2 separate regions of the Homo sapiens genome follow, and region 2 is linked to region 1. Evidence: fine-mapped expression QTL. A gene starts in region 1. The other region holds a variant in brackets. All regions are shown on one strand. Distances are between the middles of the regions. Region 1 holds the start of RPP14 (ribonuclease P/MRP subunit p14). Region 2 holds the start of ACOX2 (acyl-CoA oxidase 2).

Evidence for each region.
Region 2: its variant is fine-mapped to the expression of RPP14 in prefrontal cortex (GTEx, PIP above 0.99).

Annotation. Positions count from the first base shown.
Region 1 is chr3:58,303,328-58,308,327 of GRCh38, reverse strand. RPP14 (ribonuclease P/MRP subunit p14) reads right to left here and starts at 2,083. Exons shown (of 6, transcript NM_007042.6): 1 at 1,911-2,083. It overlaps HTD2 (hydroxyacyl-thioester dehydratase type 2), which reads right to left and starts at 1,808. Exons shown (of 5, transcript NM_001348712.2): 1 at 1,677-1,808. RefSeq lists enhancers at 1,518-1,647, 1,768-2,027, 2,218-2,297.
Region 2 is chr3:58,532,868-58,538,383 of GRCh38, reverse strand. ACOX2 (acyl-CoA oxidase 2) reads left to right here and starts at 1,194. Exons shown (of 15, transcript NM_003500.4): 1 at 1,194-1,265; 2 at 3,187-3,437; 3 at 3,862-4,024; 4 at 4,239-4,390; 5 at 4,832-4,939. The coding sequence starts at 3,278. LOC107984079 (a long non-coding RNA gene) reads right to left here and starts at 3,012. Exons shown (of 3, transcript XR_001740724.2): 1 at 2,070-3,012. The variant A/G (reference allele first, on the strand shown) is at 2,961.

The DNA of each region.
Region 1 (5,000 bases):
TGGGTGACAGAGCATGACCCTGTCTCCAAAACAAACAAACAAAAAATACTGTAATACTATGACACAAAGTAGGTATTCAAATGAGAGAAAAGTGATAGTGGTATAGGCCTATATATTCAAAAGAATCCTTGGTTTCAGGACAGCGGAAATAGTTACCTGATGCTTCTTTCCCAGTCACTAGAGTCTCCCCTAACTAGAAGGGCAGGGAGAACAAGAAACCTCATCTGTTTCTTTCATTGCTTGGCACATAAATGTTTTTTAGTGTTACTGCCTTGATGGAGCTGGCTGCCTAAAATAGGGGAGTGAAATTAGACCCAGGGCTTAGATGCCAGTAAAACGAAGACTTACACAACATTCACGAGATGGACAGTGGTGATGGCTGCACAGCGTTGTGAATGTACTCAATGCTACTTACGATAAATTTTATGTCACGTATTTTTTGCAATTAAAAAAAAAAAAAAAGACTTACAAATGACAGCACTGCCCTCTGCAGGCTGTTCTGACATTAAAGGAGAGGATACCTGGGAAATTATTTTGTACAGACTGGTATTAAATATATTCACCAGGCTCTCCACAGATGTGGGCTCACGAAGTTACTGTCATCGTCATCTTTAAAGTCAGTCTTGTTGTTTGTTTTGAGATGGAGTCTCACTCTGTCGCCCAGGCTGGAGTGCTTTGGGTCGAAGCAATTCTCGCTCCTCAGTCTCCTGAGTAGCTGGGATTACAGGCGTACGTCATCACGCCCAGCTAACTTTTGTATTTTTAGTACAAATGGGGTTTCGCCATGTTGGCCCAGGCTGGTCTCGAACTCCTGGCGTCAAGTGATCCGCCGACCTCGGCCCCCTCAAAGTGCTGGGATTACAGGCATGAGCCACCGCGCCCGGCCTAGAGTCAGCCTTTTTTAGTGGCTGCGCAGGGATGCTCCTAATCTGACCTATTAGTAATAAATCTGATTCTCCCTACTCCCCCGCTTCTCCATCCCTACGGCGGCCAGTGAGTCTATTAACATCTACTCAAGCTACATCATTCCTCTGCTCAAAATCTTGCTATGGTTCCCGTTTTATCCAGAGTAAGGCCAAAGTCCTTAGAGCAGCCTGCAAGGCTCTGCCTCACCTGCAGGACTGCTCCCTCTACACCTCTGACTTCATGTCCTGCCATTCTCCCTCCGCTCAATCCCCGCCACCACACAGGCCTAGCCTAGCTCTTTCTCACGCGCCAGTCTCGCTCCCACCGCTGGGCCTCGGCTCTAGCTTTTCCCCATGCTGGGAAAGATCTTCCTCCAGGCAGCCACCGGACTCACACCCTTGCCCCCTTCCTGGCTTAGCTCAAATCTCAATCGGGTTGGCCCAGTGCCCTTCTCGGCTAACACCGCACCCCACCCCCATGCCCCGTCCCTGCTTTCTTCTTCGTAGCATTTGCCTTTTTCTATGACAATTATGTAACTCGTTTATCTTTATCTGTACTTCCCCTCCCCACCCCAACAAAAGTCCACTCCAAGAATCTTGCTATCTTGTTCACTGCTGTTTCCCAAGGCCCTAAAACACTGGGTCGTGCACAGTGGGCGTGCGACGTACAATTTTTGGACTAAATCAATCACTTTAAAAAGCTCAATATCCTTACTGCTGAGCACTTGGGTGGCTTTCAATATTTTTCAACAACCACTATTTAGCGCTCACCTCGCGCCGGGCGCATGGAGAGCGCTCAGGACACGGTCCCGAAGTCTCGCCCGGGCCTCTCGGCCACGTTCTGCGGCCGAGACCCTACGCGGCGCCGTACAGAGGCCCTCAGCGCCCGGGGTCGGAGAGGACAAGCTACCCAAGGCGCACCGCCCGCCCCGCGCATGCGCCCGGGTCGCGGCCAACTGAGACGGCTCCCAGACAACCGCCGCTCTTTGGAAGGCTTCCACCTACCCACTCTTCGTCGGACTAGCCTGACGCCTGACCAGACTCCTATTCGCCGCAAGGACCCGCCAAGGCTTGGGGCTCCCCGGCAGCAGCCACAGCTGGGCCCGAGAAACTCCTGGTGTCTTTACGTTTGGCTTCTCCTCGTCCCGCCCCACGAAGCGTGACGCCCAGGCGGATATGACGTCACCACGCGGCGTCGTCCTAAGGACCCAGGCGCGAATCCTGATCCGGAGCTGAGAGCGGCCGAGCTCAGCGCCCTCTGGTGTCCACTCCGGGAAAGCCGTGTGTGCAATTTGCTTGGGGTGCGGTTTAGGGCGGGTTTTTTCCGCCTTGGACGGTGCTTCATAGTTATCCATTTCTTCATGCATTCATTCATTCATTCAACAATTTTTTCGTTGTTTTTTTGAGACAGTTTCACTCTGTCGCCCAGGCTGGAGTGCACTGGCGCGATCTGGCTTACTGCTACCTCCGCCTCCAGGGCTCAAGCGATTCTCCCACCTCAGCCTCCTGAGTAGCTAGGACTACAGGTATGCTCCACCATGCCTGGCTAATTTTTGTATTTTTAGTAGAGACGGGGTTTCACCATGTTGGCCAGGCTGGTCTCGAACTCCTCGCCTCAAGTGATCTGCCCACCTTGGCCTCCCAAAGTGCTGGGATTACAGACGTGAGCAACTGCGCCCGAGTCATTCTACACATTTTTTTCATTATATTATAATTTATTTATTGAGATGGAGTCTCGCTCTGTCGCCCAGGCTGGAGTGCAGTGGCGCCATCTTGGCTCACTGCACCCTCCGCCTCCCTTCAAGTGATTCTTCTGCCTCAGCCTCCCAAGTAGCTGGGACTACAGGCATGCACCACCATGCCCAGCTAATTTTTGTATTTTTAGTCGAGACGAGGTTTCACCATGTTGGCCAGCATGGTCTCAATCTCTTGACCTCGTGATCTGTCCACCTCGGCCTCCCAAAGTGTTGGGATTACAGGCGTGAGCCACCGCGCCTGGCCTAATTTTTGTATTTTTAGTAGAGACAGGGTTTCACTATGTTAGCCAAGCAGGTCTCAAACTCCTGACTTCAGGCAATCCACCCACCTCGCCTCCCAAAGTGTTGGGATTACAGACGTGAGCCACCGCGCCCAGCCTACAAAATTATATCTAGCATCTCCTCTCCTCAAGATCTCCTATGTCAAGCACTCCCCAAAGATAGGACCCACTCTCAGTGTCCCTTGTGACTCCCAGCACATAGTAGGTGTTCTATCTAGGCCGTCCTGGAAAGACCCACAAAGTAAAGACTTACTTTGTGCTAGGCACTATGCAAAATATTTTACATATGTCATCTCATGGAACCCTCACACAATCCTGAGATGGCTATTACTATGATCATCACCATTTTAGAGGTAGAAACTGAGGCACAGGCCAGGCGCAGTGGCTCATGCCTGTAATTCCAGCACTTTGGGAGGCTGAGGCGGGCAGATCACTTGAGGCCAGGAATTCGAGACCAGCCTGGCCAGCATGGTGAGACCCCCATCTCTACTGAAAATACAAAAATTAGCTGGGCACGGTGGTGCACACCTGTAATCCCAGTTACTCGGGAGGCTGAAGCAGGAGAATTGCTTGAACCTGGGAGGTAGAGGTTGCAGTAAGCCGAGATCACACCACTGCACTCTAGCCTGGCAACAGGAAAAGAAACTGAGGCACAGAGAGGCTAAGTTATTTGCTCAAGATCACAGTTATAAGCAGTGGCATGGGCTGTCTGATTCTAGCCAGTGCTCTCCATACTGCACTGTATTACCACCAATTGAGGGGCTGCAGTGGGAAGGGAAACTTTAGTGTAACCCCCATGAGGATGGGGCCTTGTCTGTGTTTCTCACCACTGCATCCCAGTTCCTGGTACCCAATGGTGACCCAACATCTATTTACTGAAGGCATTTGTTCATAAATGGATGTGCTGGTTTTGCTTGGGTTGGGGGGCAAAGGGTTGCCTTGCACAGGACAGTTGAGTCAGCGGGGATCTCCTTCCTCAATTATTTTCTCAAAATCCCACTGTGTTGTTTCCAGAAGCTTCAGTCCTCAACCTTGGCCATGCTCTCCAGTTCTGTGGTTCCTACTTTCTTCTTCCTTCAGAGGAGACAGGGCTTGTTCCAGATGTGGGAAGAGGTGGAGAAAGCAAACACAGACCCCACAGACCCAAGTATTATCTTTCTCAAAAAAGCTTGATTTCAGAAGCTGCCAGAACTTGCTTCAAATGCATCCTCTGCCACTTACCTACCTCCCTCATCTGTCACATGGAGAGATTATTAGCATCTACCTCACAGAGTTGAGGGAAAAAGAGTTGATGGTATAAAGTGTCTGGCACCCCAGGAAACCCTCAGTAATGGGAGAGGGTTCCTGTAAGCCAGCTGCCTGGCAAATGTATCCTGCCAGGTGGCCCAGGAAAACCAGAGCAATTCCTGTATTTTGAACTTCAAGGAACAATAGATAATTTTCACCCTGCTGCAACAAACCCTGAAAATGAAGTGTCTTCCCAGTTGCCTGAATTCTCTCATGCTGTCTTATTAATTCAGAGCGGAGGATAAAAGAGATGCCTTTGAATGATAAAGACAAAAAACTTGTTTTTTGGCTGGGTGTTGTGGCTCAGGCCTGTAATCCAGCACTTTAGGAGGCCGAGGTGGGCAGAACACCTGAGGTCAGGAGTTCAAGACCAGCCTGGCCAACATGGCGAAACCCTGTCTCTACTAAAAATACAAAAATTAGCTGGGTGTGATGGTGCGCACCTGTAATCCCAGCTACTCGGGAGGCTGAGGCAGGAGAATTGCTTGAACCCAGGAGGCAGAGGTTGCAGTAAGCTGAGATCACGCCACTGCACTCTAGCCGAGATGACAGAGCGAGACTCTGCCAACAAACAAAACAAAACAAAAAACAAAAAAAAACTTTTGTTTTTCAACTAAATTTTATATTAAAAAATCGTTTTTGGACAGTGTCTCACTGTCACCCAGACTGTAGTACAATAATGTGATCATGGGTCACTGTAGCCTCAACCTCCCAGGCTCAACCGATCCTCCCACCCCAGCCTCCCAAGTAGCTGGGACTACAGGTGCATG
Region 2 (5,516 bases), 230 kb before region 1:
AATCCAAGCCTTTCTCTATGGCAGAGAGGAACTAAGTCATTGCCCATGGTCAGTGATAGCATAAATCCTTGGCGGAGATGAGTCCAGGTGTAAGTAAGAACTTTCACCTCCAAACAGTGGGGCCAAGACCACCTTCCCTGAAACCACTGCCCACAGCAATGAGGACTGCCAGGAGTCTGAGCCCCACAGCTCCAGAAGGACCTACTAGGTGATAAGTTGCAAAGCTTGGGCCACAGGTCCTGCCTCTTCCTACAGACACAAGCTAGACACTACCTTGGGGATATGATGGGGTGCTGTGAGGCTCCTTACTGAGCAAATACCTTGCATTACAGGGGAGGCCAAGGCCCAGAAAGGAGTACACCTGCTCAGAGTCAACATAGCTCAGAAGTCCTGCCAGAACAGGAGCCTTGATCTCCTACTGGCCCCTTGATTTCTTTCCCAGTCTTACACAAATGTGTTACGTAATCTACTTATTGTGCAAACCCAAACAAAGTGACATCCCTCCCTGAGCCTGTTTCCTTACCTGCAAAATGGGGAGCCGCATCTGACTTTCCAAGGTGGTTATGCAGGGAGGGAACCTCTAAGCCTCTCATTCCTCTCACTAAGACCCAGCTCTCATCTGGATCCCACACACTACAGATGGATGCTTCACAAATATTTTTCCAGGGAATGTCAGGGGATGCTAAGCATAAGACAAGCCATATTTTAGAGCAGAAACATGGGGAGAGAGGAAAAACGTACACCTTACAGAGCAATCCTTTCACATGAGGACCATCTCAGGGGAGCCTATTAAGCTCGTGTGATATTAACAGCTTGAGTGCCTGAAGGGCACACAGTGAAAGATCAGGGAAGACCAGGATATCACTTTGGAAACACTGCTGGGGTACACAGCTTTTTGGTACAAGTAGTGTCAAAGGAATCCCTGGCTTTGAGATGTAAGGGCTCCAACCTCCCAGAAGTCCTCCCAGGGCAGCCCCAGCGACAGGCACAAAGGTCACACCCATGCAGGAAGAGAGGGAGGAAGGAGAGGAGCTCCATAAGCCCAGACAAGGGCTTGAGAGCAGACAAGGGCTTGAGAGCAGACAAGGGCTTGAGAGCAGACAAGGGCTTGAGAGCTGGCCAAGCAGTTTCTCTCAGCTTCTGTGTTCCAGCCCCTATGTGGGAGGAGAGAAGGGCAGGACCACAAGCCTGCCAGAGGCTGCGGCCTACAGCCGGGGAGAGGCCAGCCCGGCCTACAGTGCGGACACAGGACAGAGGGGAGCCAGGTGAGCCAGGTTTTTGGGCAGGGAGGGACTGGGAGACCCCAGAGGAGAGGGCTGCCCCCATGATGACCCTGTCCGCAGCTCCGAGAGACCCTGAGCAAGGCTTTCTTCACTGGGCACCTCCTGCAAATCAGGCCCTGCACTAAGTGTTAGGGTCACGGCATGACAGTGACAAAGATCCCGGCCCTCTTGCAGTTTCTGTGTTAGTAGCAGGGAGATGGAAGTAAACAAAAACATATGAAATGAGTAAATGATCTCAAATGTCAGAAGGGGATAAGTGAAAAGAGAAAAAGGAGAGCAGAGTGAGGAGGACAGGGAATGCCGGGGGAGGGGGCTTGGGGTTTTAAAGAGGGTGGCCTCTTTAAGGTTAAATGAGGTTCAATGCAAAAAGCCCTAGTGACATTTGAAGAAAGGGTGTTCTGGGCAGATGGAGATGCCCTAGCAAATGCTGGCAGTGGCAGGGAGGCCTGGAGCATTCAGAACAGCAAGGAGGCAGTGGCAGCAGAGCAAGGAAAAGAGGTAAGGCAGGACGAGAGGAGCCGCACTAGGGGCACTTGCAGGACTCCGGGGGGCAGAGGATGGGGCCCCTTGCCAGCACCCCCACAGCCCTGCTGGGGGTATTGGTTTGAAAGCCTCATATGAATCATTTGCTACATGTGGTTGCATGACCCTTATAAAGTCTCCTCCCTTTCCAAGGCCCACATCCTCTCCATAAAATGGTAATAACAGCAGTGCATCTGTCAGGTTGAGGTCAGGAAGGAAGGGGATCAAAAGCATGGCAGCCTGCCGGAGAGATTTACAACATACCTGCTGCAAGCTAGGAAATGCAGAGCTGGCCTCCCAGGCCTTGTGGGAGGAACATGTAAGCAAATAAGAACTTGTCCCTAACCCTAGAGCACCCAGGGAACGAGGGAGCTGAACTTTGTTCAGAGAGAACAGCAGGGGCAAAGGGTAGGAAGAGAATGAGTGGAGGCCAGGGATGAGGGCAGTAAGTTGACATAGGAGAGAGGTGAGTGGAGTAGGGTTGGGTAGACACAGCAAGGACTCCATTCCACAAACAGTGGGCCCCAAGGAGCAGATTCCAAGCAGGAGAGGAAAACAATGTGATTTGCAGTTCAAGAGTTCACCTGGCAGCTGGGAGAACAAATAAGAGGAACACTGAGGCCAAGTAAGAGATAACAGTGGCCTGGATGCTAGCCAAAGAGATAGCAAGGAGCAGATGGACTCAAGAGACTTGTGAAATAGGATGGACTGCACCTCATGGTTGCCTCACTGTGGAGGAATAGGGGCTTCTCAGAGGCCAAGCACTTGCCATGAAGGAGACAGGGTCCAACCTGGGTATGAAAGACACTCAGGGGCTCCAGGGGAACACTTCACAGGCAGGAAGAAGGCTTCCTCCCTTCAGTTCCACAATATACCTGCAGGGCTCATAGAAATGGAGCTGAGTGATCCTAGAACTTATGAGCAGTTTAATGAGACCAAGGTGCCCCCAGCAATCCTCCACAGTGGAGCTGTAGTATGGACAAGTCATGTGCTTTGTGGTCAGACCCCATCCAACTCCTGGCCATCTCCAGCTGTGTGGCTAGGGGCCACTCAACCTCTCCAGGATTATTTTCTTCAGGTGTAAGCTTCACTGACTTTTTTGTGAAGATTTCCCTAGGCAATTCATGTAACTCAAACTGCAGTGGATAGAGCCCA[A/G]TCTTTGGGGTCAGGCCCTGTCCAATTTTGGCTAACAAGTATTGAACAAACATGTACCAAGCAATGGCTGCATACCATGCCTACCATGCACACAGTGCCTGGTCCACAGCCAGTGTCCACAGGGGGAGTGGGGAGGTGGAGTGGCATTCAGGTACTTAGGGATGTCTTTCTTCTACCAACCAGCCCTGGCTGACACCCAGCCCTAGGCAGTTCCTCTTGCACACAGGTTCTTTGCACTGACCAATGCTGAGAGCAGACCCTCGGAGCAGCCGGGTTGGAAGTGTCTCTCCATAGTCACCAGACAGATCCAGGATAGGATGGGCAGCCCAGTGCACCGAGTGTCATTGGGGGATACCTGGAGCAGGCAAATGCACCCCGACATAGAGAGCGAGAGGTATATGCAGTCCTTTGACGTGGAACGGCTCACCAACATCCTTGATGGAGGTGCCCAGAACACTGCACTCCGCAGGAAAGTTGGTAAGGGGAAGCTGGGGAATGGGACATCTGTTTTATGCCCCATGCTTCTCTTGTAAGAAGAGTCCTTCATTAGCAGTTCTGCTTCCAAATAACAAACTTTGCCCTTGAAATTCCACTGTTAGAGATTCATTCCTTCGAACTGTAAAGACAATCTTCACATGTCAATATTGCCTGAGCCCACCTAGGGGATAGAAGAGTCCTAGGCAGCAGAAGACCTGGATTCTGGTCCTAAAATTCTGCCACTGCATAGCTTTGTAACCTTGGGCAATTCACTTTCCCACCTTGGTCCTCAGTTTTGTCATCTGTAAAATAACAATAATGTCTGACTTCCTTTCCAGATCCATGAAGCAAGTGGGTGAGAAGATTTCAAGGTGCCAGAAACCTCACCCAGGTCCCTAAGCCCTCTGTTCTCTGTCCTCTGCAGAGAGCATCATCCACAGTTACCCGGAGTTTAGCTGTAAGGACAATTATTTCATGACCCAGAATGAGCGTTATAAGGCTGCCATGCGGAGGGCATTCCACATCCGGTTGATAGCTCGGCGCCTGGGTTGGTTAGAAGATGGTCGTGAATTAGGCTACGCTTACAGGTGCTCACTCCTCGAGCAGCCCCACTAGAGAGGGATCTACCTGGGATCACCTGGAAACCCCCTAGCCCCATGAGCCATTTCCCCCAACAAAGGGAAGACTTGTTGGGAAACCAGGATGCTAGGTGCCCTTTATCTCCTGTACTCTGCTCAGGCAGGGGGTACCTGGGCCCCTGTCTCCAATAAGCTACTCAACTACAGCATCTCTCCCCAACAGAGCCCTTTCTGGAGACGTGGCCTTAAATATACACAGAGTCTTCGTGAGAGCCCTCAGGAGCCTGGGCTCAGAGGAGCAGATTGCCAAATGGGACCCACTCTGCAAAAACATCCAGATCATCGCAACGTATGCACAGACAGAGTTGGGACATGGTGAGCTAGGACTGCTGCGTGTGGTGTTTAGGTTGTGCACTGCAAAACTCCAGAGGGCCCATTTACATCTAGGTAGTCATAGGTTCATATGCTCCGAGGGACATATGTTTAATAAGAAAACATTCCAGCAGCTGGCAGTCAAGGGTCCTGAGGAAGGGGTGCCACCTTCTAATTTGCACGTATTGTATGAGCTCCCAGTGGGGCAAGTCATTCCTTCTGGAAACATCAGCAGCCACCCCTTCTCATGGACTGGCTATAGGGGACTGTGTGTCCCACACACAGCCCACAGATGAAAGGGGAGAACTGCCTGCAAGTACAGCTGGGAGCTGGGCCCCACTCCATACTGCGCTGATGCCTAAGAGTTCAGACCCACCTAGAAGCAGCTTCACAGGTAAGAACCCCACCTCAGGCCAATGTCTAACACCTCTCCTTGATCCTAAGGGACATATCTTCAGGGCCTGGAGACTGAAGCCACCTATGACGCAGCCACCCAGGAGTTTGTGATACACAGCCCCACGCTGACTGCCACCAAATGGTGGCCTGGAGACTGTGAGTATACATCCACCCCCCTTCCTTAACTCTCCCCAAGTAGAAGAATGTTGGAGGGCAGAGTAGCACTGGCTTTGAGGTCCAACAGACCTCAGATTGATTTTCTGTTCTAGGCTGCTGACCTTGGGCAAGTCAGTTCACCAACCTGAGCCTCAGGTTCTTACTCTGTAAAATAGGTGGGATATTAAACATTTCATTAGTGAGTGGCTGGAAAGTCCCCAAAGGAACTTTGAAGTAGAGGAGACAATCGATCCATGAGAGACAAGGCCTCACTCACACACACACGCACAAACACACACACTTGGTCTAGTCCTAGGCACTCCTCACAACCCCGGTTCCTCTCATCTCCCGAGTTAGTGGCAGAGCTTGCCACCAGCCAGAGCACAGGCCCTGTGATGACACAGTGGAAAGAATACGCCTGCCTGCCCCTGCTGCAGACACCCAGGAAGGCTCACGCCCATCACCAGCCCCCATCAGGCCACCAACGCCGTACCTCCTGCTGTGGCCACCAGGTGGCGGCCACATCAAGCGTCCCTGAGGCTTGGTGATTTACCAAGCCCCAACGAGGGATTTCCCC